Homo sapiens: one gene and its partners. The protein of the gene in region 1 interacts with the protein of each later gene in a pairwise test. Each region holds a gene or a part of one and is shown in the gene's direction. Other genes may lie near its edges.

What was found.
Region 2: the proteins of VEZF1 (region 1) and VPS52 interact in binary tests that used the Homo sapiens proteins (3 or more experiments, as listed by UniProt).
Region 3: the proteins of VEZF1 (region 1) and RBPMS interact in binary tests that used the Homo sapiens proteins (3 or more experiments, as listed by UniProt).
Region 4: the proteins of VEZF1 (region 1) and LZTS2 interact in binary tests that used the Homo sapiens proteins (3 or more experiments, as listed by UniProt).

What each region holds. Positions count from the first base shown.
Region 1 is NC_000017.11:57,971,247-57,978,293, reverse strand, and holds the end of VEZF1 (vascular endothelial zinc finger 1), read left to right. Parts: intron 1-3,393; coding exon 3,394-3,821; 3' UTR 3,822-6,742; downstream 6,743-7,047. UniProt on the Homo sapiens protein: Possible transcription factor. Specifically binds to the CT/GC-rich region of the interleukin-3 promoter and mediates tax transactivation of IL-3.
Region 2 is NC_000006.12:33,249,778-33,254,923, reverse strand, and holds the end of VPS52 (vacuolar protein sorting-associated protein 52 homolog), read left to right. Parts: intron 1-33; exon of another isoform or gene 34-226; intron 227-2,952; coding exon 2,953-3,064; intron 3,065-3,217; exon of another isoform or gene 3,218-3,287; coding exon 3,288-3,406; exon of another isoform or gene 3,407-3,411; intron 3,412-3,936; coding exon 3,937-4,083; 3' UTR 4,084-4,646; downstream 4,647-5,146. UniProt on the Homo sapiens protein: Acts as a component of the GARP complex that is involved in retrograde transport from early and late endosomes to the trans-Golgi network (TGN).
Region 3 is NC_000008.11:30,569,494-30,572,756, forward strand, and holds the end of RBPMS (RNA-binding protein with multiple splicing), read left to right. Parts: intron 1-1,143; coding exon of another isoform or gene 1,144-1,237; 3' UTR 1,238-2,763; downstream 2,764-3,263.
Region 4 is NC_000010.11:101,002,785-101,008,357, forward strand, and holds the end of LZTS2 (leucine zipper putative tumor suppressor 2), read left to right. Parts: coding exon 1-162; intron 163-722; coding exon 723-1,382; coding exon of another isoform or gene 1,383-1,484; exon of another isoform or gene 1,485-1,692; intron 1,693-2,673; coding exon 2,674-2,931; intron 2,932-3,700; coding exon 3,701-4,384; 3' UTR 4,385-5,049; downstream 5,050-5,573. UniProt on the Homo sapiens protein: Negative regulator of katanin-mediated microtubule severing and release from the centrosome. Required for central spindle formation and the completion of cytokinesis.

The sequences.
Region 1 (7,047 bases):
TCTGTGTAGTTTCTTCCATCTTTTGCTTTCATGTAGTGTGGCTCTTCCCTTCCTCAGAGTGATCCCTTCTGTTTTTTTTTTTTCTTTTTTAGACAGAGTCTCTCGCTCTGTTGCTCAGGCTTGAGTGCAGTGGCGTGATCTCGGCTCACTGCAGCCTCCGCCTCCTGGGTTCAAGTGATTCTTGTGCCTCAGCCTCCCGGGTAGCCAGGACGACAGGTGTGTGCCACCACACCCGACTAATTTTTGTATTTTTACTAGAGACAGGGTTTTGCCATGTTGGCCAGGCTAGTCTTGAACTCCTGATCTCAAGTGATCCACCCGCCTCAGACTCCTAAAGTTCTGGGATTACAGGCATGAGTCACCACACCTGGCCAGAGTGATCTCTAAACCTCCTATACTTGGATAAAAATAAAAGGAATAGCATTCTTTTTTTTTTTTTTTCTTTTTTTGAGATGGAGTTTTGCTCTTGTTGCCCAGGCTGGAGTGCAATGGCATGATCTTGTCTCACCACAACCTCCGCCTCCCAGGTTCAAGCGATTCTCCTGCCTCAGCCTCCTGAGTAGCTGGGATTACAGGCATGTGCCACCGCGCCCAGCTAATTTTGTATTTTTAGTAGAGACAGGGTTTCTCCATGTTGGTCAGGCTGGTCTCGAATTCCCGACCTCAGGTGATCTGCCCGCCTCACCCTCCCAAAGTACTGGGATTATAGGCGTGAGCTACTGGGCCCTGGCGACATTCTTTTTCATACATTTACTGGCATTGGAAGAAAAGAATGCAGCAGTCCGTATAGGCTTTTCATCATTCCTCAGGTGCTGCTTGTTCCTAGCTTCCATCTGAAGATTTGTCATTATTTTAATAAAATGTTTTGGCCAGGTGTGATGGCTCACACCTATAATTCCAGCACTTCAGGAGGCCAAGGTGGGAGGATCACTTGAGGCCAGGAGTTTGAGACCAGCCTGGGCAAGATGGCAAGACCCCATCTCTACAAAAACAACAACAACAACAAAAAATTAGCCGGACGTGACAGTGCGTGTCTGTAGTCCCCGCTACTCAGGAAGCTAAGGTGGGAGGGTCACTTGAACCCAGGAGTTTGAGGCTGCAGTGAGCTACAATTGCATCACTGCACTCCAGCCTGGACAACAGATTGAGACCCCCATCTCAAAAAAAACAAAACAAATGAACTTTTGTGTTAGAATGGGGAGAGGGGACGGGCAATGGGGAGGAAAAAGTGTAGTGCTGTGATAATTGTATAGTGGGTTGAAAGTATATTATGAAGGGTATTTTACTTAGAGAAGGAGTAAAAATGTTTAAGTCATAGTAAAAGGACACTCTTAGATTAAAAAGAAAACACGGAGGAGGAGGTAAGGGGGTCAGCAGATAAGAGAGTAAAAATTCTTTGGTGAAAGCAGGTGGAGAATATCCTCAGCAATACTCCCAGCACCTTAAAGTGAATTGGTTTTCTCTCTCAATCTCTCTCGGTGTACTCCTCTATTTGGTATTGTATTTCAATTTGCTTGCACAATAAGACTTGGTTGTTTAGCTCATCTTCTGACTTCCATGAAACAAAATGTTATTGTATTCCCATTTGTAGCGTGAATCTCTCTCAAAAAGACCACTGATCTTAGAAACCTCTGTATTCATGTTAGTAAATGTCACATTTTAGAGGAGAGGAGACTCCTGACCTGAAAATCTAAGCTTGAATCTATAACGTCCTTTAAATATTAGGCCTAAATAAGGTAACATAAGTTTTCAAACCTGATCGACAATCATATTGTCTGGGAAGCTTTTTAAAAATACACATTTCCCAAGTTCCATCTAAATTTCACTATTGATTCTCCTGGAGTCCTTTGTTTTTGTTTTGTTGGGTTTTTTTTGTTTGTTTGTTTGTTTGTTTTGAAGTCCTCTAGATAGTTGATTTTGATAATCAGCCAGATTTGGGAATCCCTGATAGGGAGAATGGTGTGTGCCAAAGTTACATTGTATTGATCAAGTAAGGGCTGCTTGACTCAAGGGTCCCCCTGCGGTGATAAGACCTTTGTGGATCATATACAGATCTCTATCTTTAGTTCAAGTATATTTCTCCATTTTGATAGCCAAGTCACAGCTAGCCTACCCATCATTTTACTGCTGTTTTCTGGTGCTGAATTTTGTTGAGGGGTGGGTTGGGGATGTCACCTTGAGGGGAAGTATTTTTTAAGAAGTGTCTAGACCTGGCTCACACCTTAATCCCAGCACTTTGGGAGGCTGAGGTGGACGGATCGCTTGAGCCTAGGAGGAGACCAGCCTGGGCAACGTGGCGAAACCCAGTCTCTACAAAAAACACAAAAATTAGCTGGGCGTGATGGCATGCACCTGTAGTCCCAGCTACTTGGTAGACTAAAGTGGGAGGATTGCTTGAGCCTTGAGGGTTTGAGGCTGCAGTAAGCTTTGATCATGCTACTGCACTCCAGCCTGAGCAACAGAAGGAGACCCTGTCTCAGAAAAAAAAGTGTCCAGGTTTTGTTGGATAAGAAGGACCAGGGTCCTCTAACTCACTGCAGGGTCTCCTTGCCTAGCTAGTTCTCTTTGGTATGCTTGGTGGTATGTGTAATATGTAGAGTTAAAGATACTAGGCATAAAATAGGTGATTGTGTCAACATCAGAAACAAGAAGAAATGGGAGTGAGGAGAACATGAACTTATTGAGGAGTATTTTTTTCTTTCCTAATGTAGTTAAGAAACATAACCAGAAAGAATAAGATTATTTAACTGAAACATATTTCTAAAACTGAAACAAACATGATACTAAAATAGCTTGTTTATCATTCCCCAATTATGCATTTTTAAAACCTTCACAGAATGTGGCTTCATGTCTCAGGCTTTAACATACTTATTGAGTATGCACACCTCTCTCTGCTAGTTACAGTGTGCCTTACGAGAAGATTTTTCTGATTATCTGTTATTGTGTAACCATTGGCCCAGCTCTGTGTAAACAAGCTCTTTAGCCTGGCCTGCTGGAGGTTGGCTCTTCCCAAGAAAGTTTTTAGAACTCAGAGGAACTGCATGAAGTAGTAGTGAGAACACTTAGCCCTGCATTGCAGAAGTTAACTGATCCTCTCAGCATCACTGTGAGGTAGGTAAGTAAATCTGAACTTGAAACCTAAAGTGCAAGGCTAAACAAGTTGCTTAAGTCCTTGCAGGAGGTATAGCATCAGAAGGTGATTCATACACTGGGATCCCTGGCCCCCAGGCTTGTGCTCAGAAAGATCCTCTGTTCTGTTGACCGCTTGATAGAAAACTGGAATTTGATTTATTAAATGTTTGACATTTTTAATGAAAAGAAATTGATTCAGAAACTTTGTGAATTTTGCTCACTGTTTTGAGAATCTAAAGACCCTTTTTCTTCTTATTTTAGAAGCTGCTAACCTGTGCCAAACCTCCACGGCTGCTACGACACCTGTGACTCTCACTACTCCATTCAGTATAACATCCTCTGTGTCGTCTGGGACTATGTCAAACCCAGTCACAGTGGCAGCTGCAATGAGCATGAGAAGTCCAGTAAATGTTTCAAGTGCAGTTAACATAACCAGCCCAATGAACATAGGGCATCCTGTAACTATAACCAGTCCATTATCCATGACCTCTCCTTTAACACTCACTACCCCAGTCAACCTCCCCACCCCCGTCACTGCCCCAGTGAATATAGCACACCCTGTCACCATCACATCTCCAATGAATCTACCCACACCTATGACATTAGCCGCCCCTCTCAATATAGCAATGAGACCTGTAGAGAGCATGCCTTTCTTGCCCCAAGCTTTGCCTACATCACCGCCTTGGTAAACAGTATTATAAAATCAAAATATGGGTAAAAGTAAATATTTACCAGCAACTTAACTTTTAGTTGATTAAAGCAAAAAGTAAACCATGAAATTGGGAGATTTTATTACATTAGTTAATAAGAGTGTGGTAGCATTTTTCTCCAATTTGGCTGGGATTATTCAAAGTAGGGTGTGTATGTAACTTATCACTGGACCACTTTAGTTTAATCAGAAATTCCTTTTAGCTGACAACATTGCTTAAACAGGATAGTAGTTGGCAAGATGAAATGCCAGAATTAAAACCAATCATAAGTAGAACCCACTTCAAAATAAAAAAACAGCATTACTATTTCTAATCCCAAGGAATCACTTTATTGTAAACACTAGCAGAACTCTTCTCCCTATACAAGGTGGATGGCTGATTTTAACCTGAAATTTTAAATCCACAGATTGAGAGCTAGTGTAGAATTGTCTGTGTTTATTGTTTTTATGAGTAAATACATGCATTGTCATAATAAAATGCATTTCAGAGAATATGCATTTTACCTTTGGGAATATGTTAATTTCAGGCAGCATTCCCTATGGGAAAGGTGATACCAGCTCTGATATGCAAAGCATATGATAATTTATCATTCTAACTTCAACGTATAATAGGGATTGTGACCTGATATTTGGAGATGTAAATATTGCTCAGCATATTAATCCCGATGGAATATAGCATTGTAGTTGACTTTTTAAAAAAAAAAAAAATTTAAAAAAAATCTACAAATTGTGTTTTGCTAAGAAAAGCCTCAACTGACAGAGGAGAAGTCAAGTGTGTGGACAGGCAAGCTCCTAATAAACAGAGTCCAGTGGGATTCCTATTTAGGAGCCAAGGAGTACTTTGGAACAGTACAAATATATTGCTTTAAATTGGAAGACGCTGGAGGCACTGGGATGTGATATGCCCCTCTCTCTCCCAATCAGAGCCTGTTGATATTACAACAGGGACAGATGTGTTAGTTGCTCACTAGAGTTTATGTCTTATATTAAATTGTATACAGTTTTTATTCTAACCACTAACTAGGTAGTGTATGCCCCTTCAGAACATGCAGAGTGTATCTTTTTTTAAATTTCTCCTTCCGTTTCTTAAGTATTGCGCAGATTTGTTCAACTTTGTAAATATGGACATCACTTTTTTTTTCTTTGAGAAAACACTTGTATCAGCTTTGTGGTGTTTTCAGGGAGACAGCTGTCTGCATTCCCTGTAGAAACCCAGCAATGATTATGCACGTTGAGACATGTGCTTTTTATTTCTTAGCAAGATATTTTATCTCTGTACATAAAGTAGAAACCAAAAGCTAGGGAAACAGATACTCTTTACACCATCATGCCACGCATTGTTTTTAAAGCATTGCGTTAAAAAAAAAATTAACTAAACCAAGATGCTGTGATTTTTTAAGTTGCAATATGTTTTTGGTTTTTTTCATTTTTTAATCATTGCAGTTAAGAGAAATGGAAATTAGTTGTGTTAATCTTGCAGAATGTTTGCAGGACTGACTATCAAACTGGATGATTTCCATTTATACCCTACTGTGTCAGTTCAAGCATCAAAATACCTTGCATCTGAGACAGACTTCCTACATCAGGGACAGGTATCTGTGTGTCATTATACAAAACAGTTCTAGGGGGTTGAACTACATAGTAAAAAAATAAAATAAATAGTACTTAGTGTAAAATAATTTTATAAATGATCTTTTGTACTTTAGGACATTAAATTGTACAACTTTTGTATATATAAAAGCTTAGGAACTTTCTGTTTAGCAGGAAGGCAACACATTCCTACACTTTTAATGTATATGTTTGTTATAATGTCCATGTAAACATGCCCTATGTTTGTGCCTTTTAATTAGTTTGTCTCAATAAACAAAATGTAGAGAAAAATATGTAGCTATGACTTTGTTACAACTGTTCTTATCCACAGTACAAAAATGGTTTGTTTTTAATATGTAGAGCATTATGTGTGGACTACTGGAAGGACTCGTGTAGGGAAAGCCCAAGAATGACCTTGCTGAGGCCTGGATTGGGAGGCACAGTGGCCACATTTGGAGGAAGTTCACATTTCCTGGCATGCAGACCCAAAACTGGGTTCTGGCTCTGCCTGCTGGGATCTGTTATCTCTGGTGGGCTGGCAGTCATAATTCACAATTCAGACAGCCCAGGCTTCCTCCACAGTGGTCCAAGGAGCAGTCCTCAGTGGGGGCAGGTGTGGGCCCTACCCCTAAGCTAGAATGTGGTTGTCAGAACCCTGAAAGTATTAGTTCTAAAAAAAAAAAGATATATACTAGAAGTAATTGTTTTATCAATTCATTGTATAATAAACAGGAGTGAGACTTCATTGTATGACTTCAGTTAAAATACTATTTTGTATGCATTCTTTATTCACTTAAGAAGCTTGTCTGCAATAATAAAGCCACGTCATGTCTTCTTTTGGGAGGGAGAGAGTCGATGGCAGGAGGGGGTTTTGGGTGGGCCACTGAAAAGGGGTACCGAATAGGTTGTGTGATGAAATTCTGTGTCTTGGAACTGGAATTGAGTTTCGATGTTGATGAACTGATTCAACCAGGTGTTGAAGGCACGACAGCCACTGCTCTACGAAAAGGCAGAGTACGTTTTTCCCTTCTGGTTGTAACCTGGTTGAGAGCTTCCCCTTTATCAGATTGGCAGCTAAACAGTTGTATTAGATAATCCTTAAATCTGACATCCAGCCTGTTACGCTCTAGGGCTCGCTGCTTGGCCTGCGTTTGCTTTTTATTGTGTATCCGTTCCCCTCCTACGGTGTGCTCCTGAATGAAGGTTTCTATGTAAGCAGATGATGATTTTACCTGTCAATACCAGCACTGTATTACTAACATGCAAAATACTGCAGATTTATTTTGAAAATTAAAGTTAACTGGTCACAAATGTTATGATGGATTGTTTAATACCTCAGAAGCTTCATCAGTTTGCTCTGATAATAGAGGAATTTTTCAAGTACTTTCTTTTCAGGTGCGCACATCTCAGTATTGGGTTGGAGAGAGAGGGAGGGACCAGTATCAGGCTGGTTGGAGGGTGGAAGGGCACCAGACTGACTGCCCTTGGTAGGTGCACCCTCCCAAGCAGCTCAGGTAAGGCCCAGGAAGCTAGGATGGAGGCAGTGGCCACAGGTTTAGGTCCCTGTCCTACCCAAAAGAGAAGATGGGTTTAAAACATTTCTTCTCATGCTCTAG
Region 2 (5,146 bases), on another chromosome or scaffold:
AGGGAGGATCGCTTGAGCCCAGGAGTTTGAGACCAGCCTGGACAACATGGTGAAACCCCATCTCTACAAAAAATAAAAAAAAAATGAGTGGGACATGTTGGCACATGCCTGTTAGTCCCAGCTACTCAGGAGGCTGAGGTGGGATAATCACTGAGCCAGGAAAGTTGAGGTTGTAGTGAGCTGTGATTGTGCCACTGCACTCCAGCGTGGGTGATGGAGCAAGACCCTGTTTCCGAAAAAAAAAAAGAAAAAAAAGATATACTTAAAATTTATTCTAAGATGAAGTCTTCAAAATCAGGTGTATATATCATGCTTACAACACATTATATAATTTATGGCTCCTGCCTAGCAGGGGTCATCACTGTTAGTTCAACTTTTCTTTGGCAAGTCTACTCCCTGTGCCCCACCGTACACTGCTACATTATTGTTTGTATATGTGTGTGTGAGACTGCATTTAGGCAACTGTAATAGGTTGAATTTGGTTATTTAATCTCTGTCCAAAATCACATCACAAAGATGCCTTGATTATAGAAAGATCCTTCCTTGCAGCATATTAGTTATTTGACACCCTCAGTGGATATAAGTGAATATTTTGAGGGAAGAATAGAAAAGATACAATTTTTATTTATTTATTTATTTATTTATTTACTGAGACAAGTTGCTGCTCTGTCGCCCAGGCTGGAGTGCAGTGACATGATCTTGGCTCACTACAACCTCTGCCTCCCGGTTCAAGTGATTCTTCTGCTTCAGTCTCCCTGAGTAGCTGGGGTTACAGGCATGCACCACCACACCTGGCTAATTTTAGTATTAATAATTTATTTTTAAATGGAATAATAATTTCACTTTCTTCTTACCAGATCTTTCTGTCTGGGTTGTTTGCTTTTATGAGTTTTTTTGTTTGAATCTCCCTTTTACATTAAACAAAAATTAACATTTTATTATGGGAAATTTCACTATGCTATTAGAAAAGCATAGTGAACCCCCAGGCATCATCAGTGATATTCGGTGTATAGCAGTTCACGGACAGTTTTGTTTCATCTATACCAACACCTATTGCTTATCCTCCTTCTGTGTCCCCCAGTTACTTTGAATTAAATCTTATACATATACAGATGAATATTATCACTTCATCTGTATCAGAATGTTATTTTTATTAAGAAAATTATTTTTGAGATAGGGCCTTGCTGTAGTGCCCAGGCTGGAGTGTAGTAGCATGATATAACTCCCTGCAGCCTCGAACTCCTGGGCTCAAGTGATCCTCCCACCTCAGCCTCCTAAGTAACTGGGACTACAGGTGTGTGCCACCACACCTGGTAACAGATGGTTTTAAAAACTACAATACATTATCACACTTAAAAAAATTATCTTATCTAAAATAACTATTCAGATTTTCCCAGTTATTTCATAAGTGATTTTTTTTTTTTTTTTTTTGAGACACAGTTTCACTCTTGTTGCCTCCAGGCTGGAGTGCAATGGCCCGATCTTGGCACACTCCAACATCTGCCTCCCGGGTTCAAGCAATTCTCCTGCCTCAGTCTCCTGAGTAGCTGGGATTATAGACACCCACCACCACGCCCAGCTAATTTTTGTATTTTTAGTAGAGACAGGATTTCACCATGTTGGCCAGGCTGGTCTCAAACTCCTGACCTCAGGTGATCTACCCGCCTCAGCCTCCCAAAATGCTGGGATTACAGGCATGAGCCACTGTGCCTGGCCTTCATAAATGATTTTTATGGTTCAAATCAGGATCCATATAAAGTCCATATATGTGTCTTTTTTTAGTCTATAGATTTCCCTTCCATCTCCTCTGCAATTTATTTTTGGAAGAAACTGAGTTATTGAGTCATTTGTCATCTAGAATGATGTACAGTTTAGATTTTGCTGACTGCATTCCATGGTGTGGCCAAACTTCCTCTGTCTGGTGTATTTCTCATAAGTGTGTAATTAGATGGAAAGGCTTGGTCAGATTTAAATTAGTTTTTTTTTTTCTACAGGGATATTTGAGAGGTAGTGGTATGTATTTCCATCAGGAAGCACATAATGTCTTCTTGGCTCTCTTTGTGATGTTAGTAGCCATCAATTTCAGTGCCTAGATACATTAATTAGATTTCTGTATCTCCTACTATCTCAAAATTTTCCATCTTCTGTCTGTGCTACATTCTGAGTCCTTTCTTCAGTTATAAATTCTAATTCATTGTATAATTCTTGTTAATCTGTTGACTTTCTAAAACTGGCTTTTCATATCTAAAAAAATTTCCTTTTTTCAAGTCTGTTCATTCCTCATAGTTCTTACTAATTGGTCATTTTTACATCCTTTTTTTTTTTTTTTTTTTTTGAGACGGAGTCTTGCTCTGTCATCCAGGCTGGAGTGCAGTGGCATGATCTCTGCTCACTGCAACCTCCGCCTCCCAAGTTCAAGTGATTCTCTTGCCTCAGTCTCCCGAGTAGCTGGGATTATAGGCATCCACCATCATGCCCAGCTAATTTTTGTATTTTTAGTAGAGATGGGGTTTCATCATGTTGGCCAGGCTGGTCTTGAACTCCTGACCTCAGGTGATCTGCCCACCTCAGCCTCCCAAAGTGCTGGGATTACAGGCGTGAGCCACTGTGCCCGGCCTATCCTTAACTTTAGACATTGCACACAGTACAACTGCTATCCGTATCGGATAGTTCTTAAGGTCAGCAGCTATTGCTTATTGTGTCTGCTGACTCTCTTGGTAGCTGCCCTTCTTTTGTGTCTAGTGATCTTTGAGTTCATTGTTTGATCTTAACCAGGGGAACTGTATGGGCCAAAATTAGGATTGAGGATATTTTTCTCCATAGAGGATTTTCCTTAACTTTTGCAGCAGCTGAAAGATGCCATTCAGATGGATCTACATTAGTCATGATGCCAGAATTGGGCAAATCTGCTGACACCAGGACACCTGTGTATATGTGTTTGTGTCTTTCCAGGAATTCATTGAAGAGTTGCTGTCTCCCCCTTTTGGGGGTTTAGTGGCATTTGTGAAGGAGGCTGAGGCTTTGATTGAGCGTGGACAGGCTGAGCGACTTCGAGGGGAAGAAGGTATGAGGAAAATATGGTAATGATGGGATCAGTGGTAAGGGAAGTGGAAAAGAAAAATGAAAGGATGCAGATTACATGGTGGGGGAATAGAGTATGAAAGACTGGATTGAGAGAATACCAGAAAAGAGGGTTTGATGATAAGGATGGCTATACCTTGGGGAGAACTTAGTGGAGTTGAAGATCAGCCAGATCCCTCTCTGACACTGTTTCCTCCTGCTATTAGCCCGGGTAACTCAGCTGATCCGTGGCTTTGGTAGTTCCTGGAAATCATCAGTGGAATCTCTGAGTCAGGATGTAATGCGGAGTTTCACCAACTTCAGAAATGGCACCAGTATCATTCAGGTGACCTGCAAGTCCCAGGCCCCACTCAGATCCCCCATCATTAATTATTTTCCCCATCTTTTTGCTGGGCTCAGCATCATCTAAGTGACCCTTGGTCTTCAGTTACTAGCTGTGCCCAAAGTTCTGTATGAGCCCTAACCTGATTCTTTTTTTTTTGTTTGTTTTGTTTTTTTTTTGAGACAGAGTCTAGCTCTGTTGTCCAGGCTGGAGTGCAGTGGCACAGTCTCGGCTCACTGCAACCTCTGCCTCCCAGGTTCAAGTGATTTTCCTGCCTCAGCCTCCCAAGTAGCTGGGATTACAGGTGCCTGCCACCACAACCAGCTAATTTTCGTATTTGTAGTAGAGATGGGGTTTCACTGTGTTGGCCAGGCTGGTCTCGAATTCCTGACCTCGTGATCTGCCCGCCATGGCCTCCCACAGTGCTGGGATTACAAGTGTGAGCCACTGCGCCTGGCCGCCTAACCTGATTCTTAATCATCACTATTAGCACCATTTTACGGTTTGATCCCTCAATGACTTTCTTTGACCAGGGAGCGCTGACCCAGCTGATCCAGCTCTATCATCGCTTCCACCGGGTGCTGTCCCAGCCGCAGCTCCGAGCCCTCCCTGCCCGGGCTGAGCTCATCAACATTCACCACCTTATGGTGGAGCTCAAGAAGCATAAGCCCAACTTCTGATGTGCCAGAAACCGCCCTGAGATCTGCCGGTCATCTCCATGGACTTCTGCACCCCATTCCATACCCTTCTTCACCTGGGGTACCCCTTCCAGTTTTCCCCTTGCTTCCCAGGCCCTTGACATGGCTTACCTGCCTTCACTCCCAGCACCTTGCCCAACAGGATAAGCTGGATCCCCTTGGCCTTCTGAATATCCCAGTGTCTTCAGGTTTCCCAAGACCACTTCCCTGTGGGCTTCCAAAATGGCCTTTATCATTTCTCCAGTCTGTCACCCTCCTTTCCTGCTCCCATACACCCAAGGCTTGTTTCTTCCCCTGTAAAAACCACTGCCTCAATCTCTGGTTCACTCAACTAGTCACCATGTCCTGAGGCATGAAGCCTCCTCAGCTCTTGGAATTGCTGGCAAGGGGTGACTGCCTCTGAGTCATTGTGTTTTTCAAAGTGATTTCTTTTCTGTAGCTTTTTGACCTAAGATCTCAGCAATTTGAACACTAACCTCTCCCCTCCTGGCTCAAGAATTACTCCGAAGTCAGTCTGCAGAAAATAAATATTTAGTATGACATGACACTTATCCCATTTCCTTTCTCCTTCCTCCTGAAGGTTTTTCAGGTGGCCCCATCTCTAGAATGACCTTTCCTTTCTGACTACTTCCTGGGCTTACATCCCTTCTGGTGGGTGTAACCTCTAACCTCTAGCTACTCCCAGGCCATTGGAGGAAGGTGGCCCCTGGCTAAAATAGCAGATGCTGCAAGGGATGAGAACCAGGCCGCGCAGCCCCAGACACTGTCCCAAGGGCTCCCTTGGGACAAGCCCAAGCTGACTCTGGAATCCCTCCTCCGTAGCAGCTCCATAGCTCCTCTGGTTGTGGCTGTGACAGCCCCTTGCTCGGGGGCTGCAGCACCCAACCCACACCCACACCGTTGGGGCAGGGCTAGACCAGGCGAAATTCGTACCATCCGTTTGTTTGACTTGGAGCCTTCCTGCTGTCCTCGCCTATACGCCTCGTTTGAACTTAGGCTCTAGACTGGAGAGACACGGGGACCCCTTTAAGGCCTAAGAAGAGAG
Region 3 (3,263 bases), on another chromosome or scaffold:
GGAAGTAAGAACAGGCACGGCACGCTCTGCTGAAAGTAGACTGCGGCCAGGCTTTTGAAGGCCTTGAAGGATGTGTTAGGGATTTGGAAGCCACTGGAAAGATGAGCAGGGGTGGAGAGTGATTTAGGAATGTTGTTGTCATGCTGCCCAAAGCAAAGTAGATGAAGATTCGAGGTAGAAGCACACTTCTGCACAGGTGGCCCTAAGATGGTGATGGTGGAGTGGAAGGAGCAGATGAGCCAAGAGGACAGGAAATGAGGTCGGTGTAAAGGGCAGGGACAGGCCAGGGGTGCACAGGGATGAGTCTGGATTTGGCTGCCTTGAGGGCTGTCTACAGTAAGCATACTTAAGCGGATGTGCTAGAACTAATGTCATTATTTATTTGCCACAACCTAAAGAGACAGGCAAGTATTAGTCGCCCGTCACAGAGAAGGTCCAGGGTGTCCAGGGCCCACTGTGGAAAGCTCTGCCTGGCTTGCCCCTGCTCCGCCGGCCGTTACCCGCTACCCACTCATACTGTCGTCCAAAAACTGGGCAGTGAAAAGTCACAGGTCAGATACAAATTGGACAGATTTGGTGTGAACATTTACAAGCTCATCCCGTACGCTATGTTTCAGTGGTCACCTAAATATTCTCATTTCAGGACTTTTTAAAACACATTTTCCCAAATCTAACTTGGGACAAAATCTAACTTGGGACATTTAAATAGGTTATCAATAATTATCTGTTTATGGCCTCTTTCGGCACACAAATAAGCATCTCCCTGTACAAAATTCTAGTGTATGCTGAGCTGATTGATTGCCTTCTGCATACACCTTTTCTACAACTTCTCAAACGTGTGTGACATGCTGGTAAGATGGCAGGAAAAGGAGTGACTGAATAATACAATATAGCTGAGATGTGTTTCAAGAAAACCTCTGGGCCAGGGTAGGGGTTTGTGAGCGGGAGCCAAGGACTTGCCCCATGTTTCTAATCAAGGTGAGACCACTGACACATGTGGTCAGCAAATATGTTCTATACACACATCCGCACACTGTCATCTAACCCATCCGTTCTCCCATCCACAGCATCTCCAGGACAAAGCCATCGCAACTAGGGAGGGGTTGACACCTGCTCTCCTAACATGTTTTCTTTCTGTTTCAGGCTTGAAAAACCCTTGCCCAGTTTTGATCCCTTCAAGACTTTGTCACAGCCTCTATCACACATCTGTTTTTCTCGAAGAAAAAAATATAATTAATAAAAATGTTTTACTCTTTTACACTGTATAATTGTAAGAAATAGCGTATTATTTGTGAATGCATGGTCTGAAATTTCTGTACAGTTTGGAGATATTTTCAAACGAAACGTAAGAGAAGTCAACAATAAAACCAAGAAAAGTGAGTATTTTTATACCAAACATTTTAAGTATGCTGGGATGGACGATCTTACACTGGTTTGGATCACAGTTTTTGTTCTTGACTTTTGAATGCTTGTAATTAAAAATATCTATTTTTTTCCTCTGAAGTAAGTTGCATGTTTGAGGCATGTTTCCAAATATTATCAAAATATCCTGAATTGTATTGTGAATATATAGAAATCTGTGCCTGGCCGGAGTCCAGGGTAAATTAGTAGCATGGTGTTAGATGTTAGAAACAGAACTGTTATTTGCAGTGTTAGGTCTAGGATCCCAGTTCTAGTAGGACAGCCCTGCAAGACAATCAACCAGAAGCCTCCAGGAGCTTCTACCTATGGCTTATTCACAACTGGGCAAGAAAACATCATTGGTAAGAACTGCTGAGTGTGCCCTTAGAAAGCCCTAGTAGCTCCAGCTGTGACTATATCAACTGTGTGCCAAGTGTGACTTTGTACAGTTTTATGTTTCCACTCTCCTGTATGTGTAGCCACTCGATGCCTAACCTACCTTCCACAAGCCAGCCCCGCATCCCTGCTCCCGCAGTGTAAGTGCAGAGCCTGCCTCACTGGTAAGGGAAAACCTTGGCTTGGGAGGCCAGCCCTGGCCCTTGAAGGGGTTGGCTGTGCCCAGCCCACCTGGCTGCAGTGGGCAGCTCATGTCTGTATCTCCAAAGTGATGTTTGTTTGCAAAACACCGGCTGAACTGAGCTGGTGTTGCCAACTCTTGGCAGCACTGGGCCAAACCGACCACATACCATGAGCTCCCAAATGGCGTGTGCTCACTGTGAGACGTCCTGCCACACCCCACAGGAGACGGAGGCAGTGGGCATTTGGAACCAATTCTATTCAGACTTCGTCAAAGCCAAAGTCAGTCTGGTGTTGTCAGTTGACACATCTCCAGAGTTCATGACAGCTCAACCTCTCCCCTTGTACAGAAGCCATTTTTGTAAAACCACACTGACCTAAATTCAGCTGCCAAACACAGTCTTTCCTATTGATCCGCTCGGCTTATGTTGAAAATTTCAATGTCATGATTACCTGGTTGGTTTGGGTTTTTGTTTTGTTATTTTCCATTAGAAATATAAAGATGTCAAGAAGCTTTTAAAGGTCAACACAAAAAACCAAGGCCAGGAGTGAGGGGCTCTTTCTTACCGTAAATAAGGGGAAAAGGCAGTTAGCTCAAGGACTTGTGACGGATCCACTTTGGTGTTCAAGGACCTGCTTATGCCCTCAGTGCCAATCGGCTCTTGGTGAGATGACTGTACTCCTAAGGAAAATAGCCACTTCTGCAGTCTATTATGCTTTTATAACTGTTTAAAGGTACTTTTCTATTGTCATTTTTAAAAAATAAAGTGCTTATTCCAGCTGTCACACCATTGCTTGACAAATTCTTTTTTAGCAAGACCAACTACATGTATCCCACACTGCAGACAAGACGCCAGCAGATTTCATTCCCATTGTCAGGCTTCGGCAGAGCTAAGCAAGCATTGGCCATTGAGCTTAGGCACAAAGAGATTAAAGGAGGAAGCAGATACCGGGGAAAGCCAGAGAGTAAGTCTGCAAACGCACAACCACAGTGGCTGGTGACCCACAATGACACCAGAGGCAGAGGGACCTCAAGGGAGGCCCCTCATCTACCTCAGCCTACAAAGCTTGACTCAGGATTATCTGAATTATATTAAAATGTCACTTGGGTTTTCTGCTGACTTAAATATATCTTACGCCAGGCATGGTGGCTCACACCTGTAATCCCAACACTGGGAAACTGAGGCAGGAGGCTTGCTTGATCCCAGGAGTTTGAGACCAGCCTGGACAACACAGCAAGACCCTCAATTTTAACATTAGCCAGGAGTACTAGCACCTGTGGTCCT
Region 4 (5,573 bases), on another chromosome or scaffold:
GTCCCTGTCACCAGCTTCACCTACATCAATGAGGACTTCCGGACAGAGTCACCCCCCAGCCCAAGCAGTGATGTTGAGGATGCCCGAGAGCAGCGGGCACACAATGCCCACCTCCGCGGCCCACCACCAAAGCTCATCCCTGTCTCTGGAAAGCTGGAGAAGGTGAGGACCGGCTCTTCCTTGTGGGCCTGGGTAGAACGGGAGTCCTCGCTTGGGAAACTGGAATTTAGAAGCTTATATAGAGGAAAGAGTGTGGGCTCCAGATTCACCAGACCTGGGTCCTAATCCCAGCTCTCTCTCATTCTGGATGTGTGACCTCAGGGAAGTCACTTAACCTGAGCCTCAGTTTCTAGAACTGACATGAAGGTCAAATAATGTATAGCATAGTGCCTAGCACGTAGCATGTACGCAGTAAGTGCTAGTTGCTTACGTTCTGGTTATTCTGCACCAGTTATACGTTTGACTTTGGGCAAGGCCTTTAACCTTGCTGAGCCTCCATTTCCTCATCTGTAATATGGGGATAGTGATCATATTTAGATAATGGAGATAAACTTTTCAAATTGCTTGACACAAAGCTGACACTGGTGGCCACCTCCACCAGTGGCCGCAATTGTTATGAATATATGGGCACTGGGGACCCAAGACGGGAGGGCAGGGAGTGTCATAAGGGCTCTGCAAGATTGGGCAGCTCATCTCCAGTGTCACATGGCACCTCATTTCAGAACATGGAGAAGATCCTGATCCGCCCAACAGCCTTCAAGCCAGTGCTGCCCAAACCTCGAGGGGCTCCGTCCCTGCCTAGCTTCATGGGTCCTCGGGCCACCGGGCTGTCTGGGAGCCAGGGCAGCCTGACGCAGCTGTTTGGGGGCCCTGCCTCCTCCTCCTCCTCTTCCTCCTCCTCTTCAGCTGCTGACAAACCCCTGGCATTTAGTGGCTGGGCCAGTGGCTGCCCATCAGGGACGCTATCCGACTCTGGCCGAAACTCACTGTCCAGCCTGCCCACCTACAGCACCGGAGGTGCCGAGCCAACCACCAGCTCCCCAGGCGGGCACCTGCCTTCCCATGGCTCTGGGCGAGGGGCACTGCCTGGGCCAGCCCGAGGGGTCCCTACTGGGCCCTCCCACTCAGACAGTGGCCGGTCCTCCTCCAGCAAGAGCACAGGCTCCCTAGGGGGCCGTGTGGCTGGGGGGCTTTTGGGCAGTGGTACTCGGGCCTCCCCTGACAGCAGCTCCTGTGGGGAGCGCTCACCACCACCCCCGCCTCCACCTCCTTCGGATGAGGCCCTGCTGCACTGTGTCCTGGAAGGAAAGCTCCGAGACCGGGAGGCAGAGCTTCAGCAGCTGCGGGACAGTCTGGACGAGAATGAGGCTACCATGTGCCAGGTGTGGTCAGAGGCAATGATGGGGAAGGGGCATGGCAGGACATCCCAAGGCCCTGGGATGCAAGCGGCATTTCCATTTTGGCAGGGAACGGGGGTTGGGTAGTTGTAGTTGTGACCCCCCTGCCCTCCCCACCAGTTGTCTGGTTTAATGTGTGGAGTAGCCAGGTGTGGTGGCTCACATCTGTAATCCCAGCACTTTGGGAGGCCGAGGTGGGCGGATTGCTTGAGCTCGGGAGTTTGAGACCAACCTGGGTAACATGGGGAAACCCCATTTCTACTAAAAATAAATTAGCTAAGTGTGGTGGCATGTACCTGTAGTCCCAGCTACTTGGGAGGCTGAGGTGGGCGGATCACTGGAGCCCAGGAGGAGGAGGTTACAATGGACTGACATTCCACCATTGCACTCCAGCCTGGGCGACAGAGCAAGACTCTATCTCAAAACAAAAAACAAAACTTGTGGGGTGGAAAGGAGTCAGAGTGCATGGATTCAAACCTCCCACTGCCAAATACTAGTTTTTGGGCTTGAGCAAGTTGCTTAACTTTACTCAGCCTTTATTTCTTCATCTATATAGGGATATTTCTAGCTTCGTAGGATTATTATGAGGATTAAATAAGGCAAAAGGTGTAAAGTGATTAGACTAATGCCTGGTACCTAGGAAGTGCTATATAAATGCTTGCCTTTTTTAAAATTTTTTATTATTTTTTATTTTTAGTAGAGACAGGGTTTCCACCATGTTGGCCAAGCTGGTCGCGAACCCCTGGCCTCAAGTGATTCACCTGCCTCGGCCTCCCAAAGTGCTGGGATTACAGGCGTGAGCCACTGCACCCGGCCAAGTGCTTGCTTTTTTTATTTTTTGAGACAAGGTCTCATTCTGTCACCCAGGCTAGAGAGCAGTGGCGTGATTTCAGCTCCCTGTAGCCTCAACCCCCTGGGCTCAAGCAGTCCTCTCACCCCAGCCTCCCAAGTAGCTGAGACTACAGGCGCATGCCACCACACCAAGCTAATTTTTGGTCTTTGGAGAGGCAGGGTTTTGCTGTGTTGCCTAGGCTGGTCTCGAACTCCGGAGCTTAAGTGATCCACCCACCTCGCGTGAGCCACCGAGCCCGGTCTGCTTGCTCTTGTGTTTGTTTCTATGATCATCATAAAAGCAGTTAGTATTGTTGTTGCAATTACTATTGTTGTTTAATGGAATCCACCCTTCCTGAGCCCTCGGAAGTGGGCTGCCAGAGCAGACACTGAGTGGGGAGTTGGGAAAACTGCCCAGGAGCCAGGTCTCTCTTCTCGCCTGCAGGCATACGAGGAGCGGCAGCGGCACTGGCAGCGAGAGCGTGAGGCCCTGCGAGAGGACTGTGCGGCCCAGGCACAGCGGGCACAGCGGGCCCAACAGCTGCTGCAGCTGCAGGTGTTCCAGCTGCAGCAGGAGAAGCGGCAATTGCAGGACGACTTCGCACAGCTGCTGCAGGAGCGCGAACAGCTGGAGCGGCGCTGCGCCACCTTGGAGCGGGAGCAGCGGGAGCTCGGGCCGAGGCTTGAGGAGACCAAGTGGGAGGTGGGCCAGACCAGGAGGGGCAGGGAGCAGGGTCACACAGGGAGAAACCCTGGAAAAAGGGGCCCAGCCCCACCCTCCCTCAGCCTGCCACCCCCAGAGGTCCTCCCCTTTCTCACCTCCGTGAGATGAGGTTCCCCTCTGTCCCTTTCTGGGAGGGGGGTCTCCTTGTTGGCCTTGTCTAGTGGCACGTAGCCACGCTTCCAGCCAGTAGTAAGAATGTGGTGCTTGTGGTGTGGAGGCACTATTCTAAGCATGTTACATGGAACAGATCATTTCATCCTTATAACAACACTGAGGGGGCTACCATTAGTCTCCCCATTTTAGAGATGAGTAAACTGAGGCCCATAAAGGCTGAAGCCCCAAATCTGAACCCAGGCAGTCTGGCTCCAATATCTGAGCTCTTAACTAGGTCACTGTAGTACCTCTCCAGCAGGCACCTGGGCACTGCCCTCCATTGTCCCCACTCCTGCAGCACTTGCCAGGACCCAGTCCCCAGTCCCCAGTCCCCAGGGCTTGGTGGTACTTGCAGTGTCTTGTGATGCTTTGAAGACACCAGCTTTGAAGCAAAAAGTTCTAGGTCTGCTTTCCACTTAAGCCCCATCTTAACTGTATGACCTTGGACATGTCACTAGACTTGCTTTAGTGTCTCCATCTGTAAAATGGGGATAAAGATGGACTCTTCTCTCCCAAATGCCCAGCATGATGTGCAGGGCCTGTCCCCCCAGGAGAACCTGTCTCACCATCCTTCCCCACTTCCTCCCACCCCCAGGTGTGCCAGAAATCAGGCGAGATCTCCCTGCTGAAGCAGCAGCTGAAAGAGTCTCAGGCAGAGCTGGTGCAGAAGGGCAGCGAGCTGGTGGCTCTGCGGGTGGCGCTGCGGGAGGCCCGTGCTACGCTGCGGGTCAGTGAGGGCCGTGCGCGGGGTCTACAGGAGGCCGCCCGAGCTCGGGAGCTGGAGCTGGAAGCCTGTTCCCAGGAGCTGCAGCGACACCGCCAGGAAGCTGAGCAGCTGCGGGAGAAAGCTGGGCAGTTGGATGCTGAGGCGGCCGGACTCCGGGAGCCCCCTGTGCCACCTGCCACCGCTGACCCATTCCTCCTGGCAGAGAGTGATGAGGCCAAAGTGCAGCGGGCAGCAGCCGGGGTTGGGGGCAGCTTGCGGGCCCAGGTGGAGCGATTGCGGGTGGAGCTGCAGCGGGAGCGGCGGCGGGGTGAGGAGCAGCGGGACAGCTTTGAGGGGGAGCGGCTGGCCTGGCAGGCAGAGAAGGAGCAGGTGATCCGCTACCAGAAGCAGCTGCAGCACAACTACATCCAGATGTACCGGCGCAACCGGCAGCTAGAGCAGGAGCTGCAGCAGCTCAGCCTGGAGCTGGAGGCCCGGGAGCTCGCTGACCTGGGCCTGGCCGAGCAGGCCCCCTGCATCTGCCTGGAGGAGATCACTGCTACTGAGATCTAGGGCCCTCAGCAACCAGCTCTGTAGGGAGCTCTGCCAGAGGGGCAGCAGCTGCAGATCCACTTAGGCCCCAGGGTCCACGGATGGCCCCAAAGGCTGAGGGCCCCAAAGCCACTTGTCTCCTAGGATCCAGGCCTCTGGGCTTCTGCCAAGAACTCAGGGTGGCCCTATGACTTGGAGGAGCAAGATCAGACCGCTCAAAGGTCCCCGTGTTCACTGTTACCCAGAGGCTCTTGTTACTACCCACTTCATTCCCCACCGCTGCCAGTGCCACTGCCAACCCTGTTCACAGGCGCTTCCAGCCCACTCCAGCCAGGGGAGCAGGGAAGAAGAAGGGGCTCCCTCCTCTTCACATTCCCCCCGACCCCAAAGCCAGAGAAAGCCAGATGGCACCAGCTGCTCCGGATGTGCCTGCCCACATTGGGGGACAGGGCCGGGCCTGGGCTCGGTTCCCAGGTTTGAGCTCTGCAGCCTCTCTCCTGGAGTGAGGGGGCTGAAGTCAGACCAAAGGAAGAACTCAGAAATGTCTTGTTTATTTGTGTTTGTGACCAAGCAGCCTCTCCCTTCACCCAGGTTTATGGCCTCGTTTTCACTTGTATATTTTTCACACTGTAAATTTCTTGTACAAACCCAAAGAAAAAATTAAAAAAAATTTTTTTGTTTAAAAATAATGTGAATGTGCTGGATAAAGAGTACAGGAACTTGTTTGACCCCCCCCCCCCCACCATTTGCTGGCTATTCTCCTCCCCCTCATAGAGCTCTCTTGGGGAGAAAAGGTGATGGAGGAAGGACAAATCCAGTAGAATGTCTGAGGTCTTAGTGGACCCCAACGTGAAATGATCTCTCAGGATTTCAGGGACTAGAAAAGCCTTTCATCCGTTTCCTTGCACAGAATGCTGCTTGGGGTTGAGGAATGGATGCATTGACCCCTTCAGGGCCCTGTCTGAGAGTCTGTGTCCCTGGAGGCTTGGGCGACTCATAAGGGACAGCATGTGAGAAAGTGCCCACCAATCCCAAGCTCCAGACCTTGGCTTTCTCACCCCCTATCCTGGCTTGGGAGGTTGGGGAGCAGTGAGTGCAGGTGACACAGGCTGCCCACTAGCACCTTGTCCTTGGACACTAAGGCAGAGCCTTAATGACAGCTGAGGAGGGAAGAAAGTGGAAAGATGTGAGCCACCAGTGTGGCACTGGG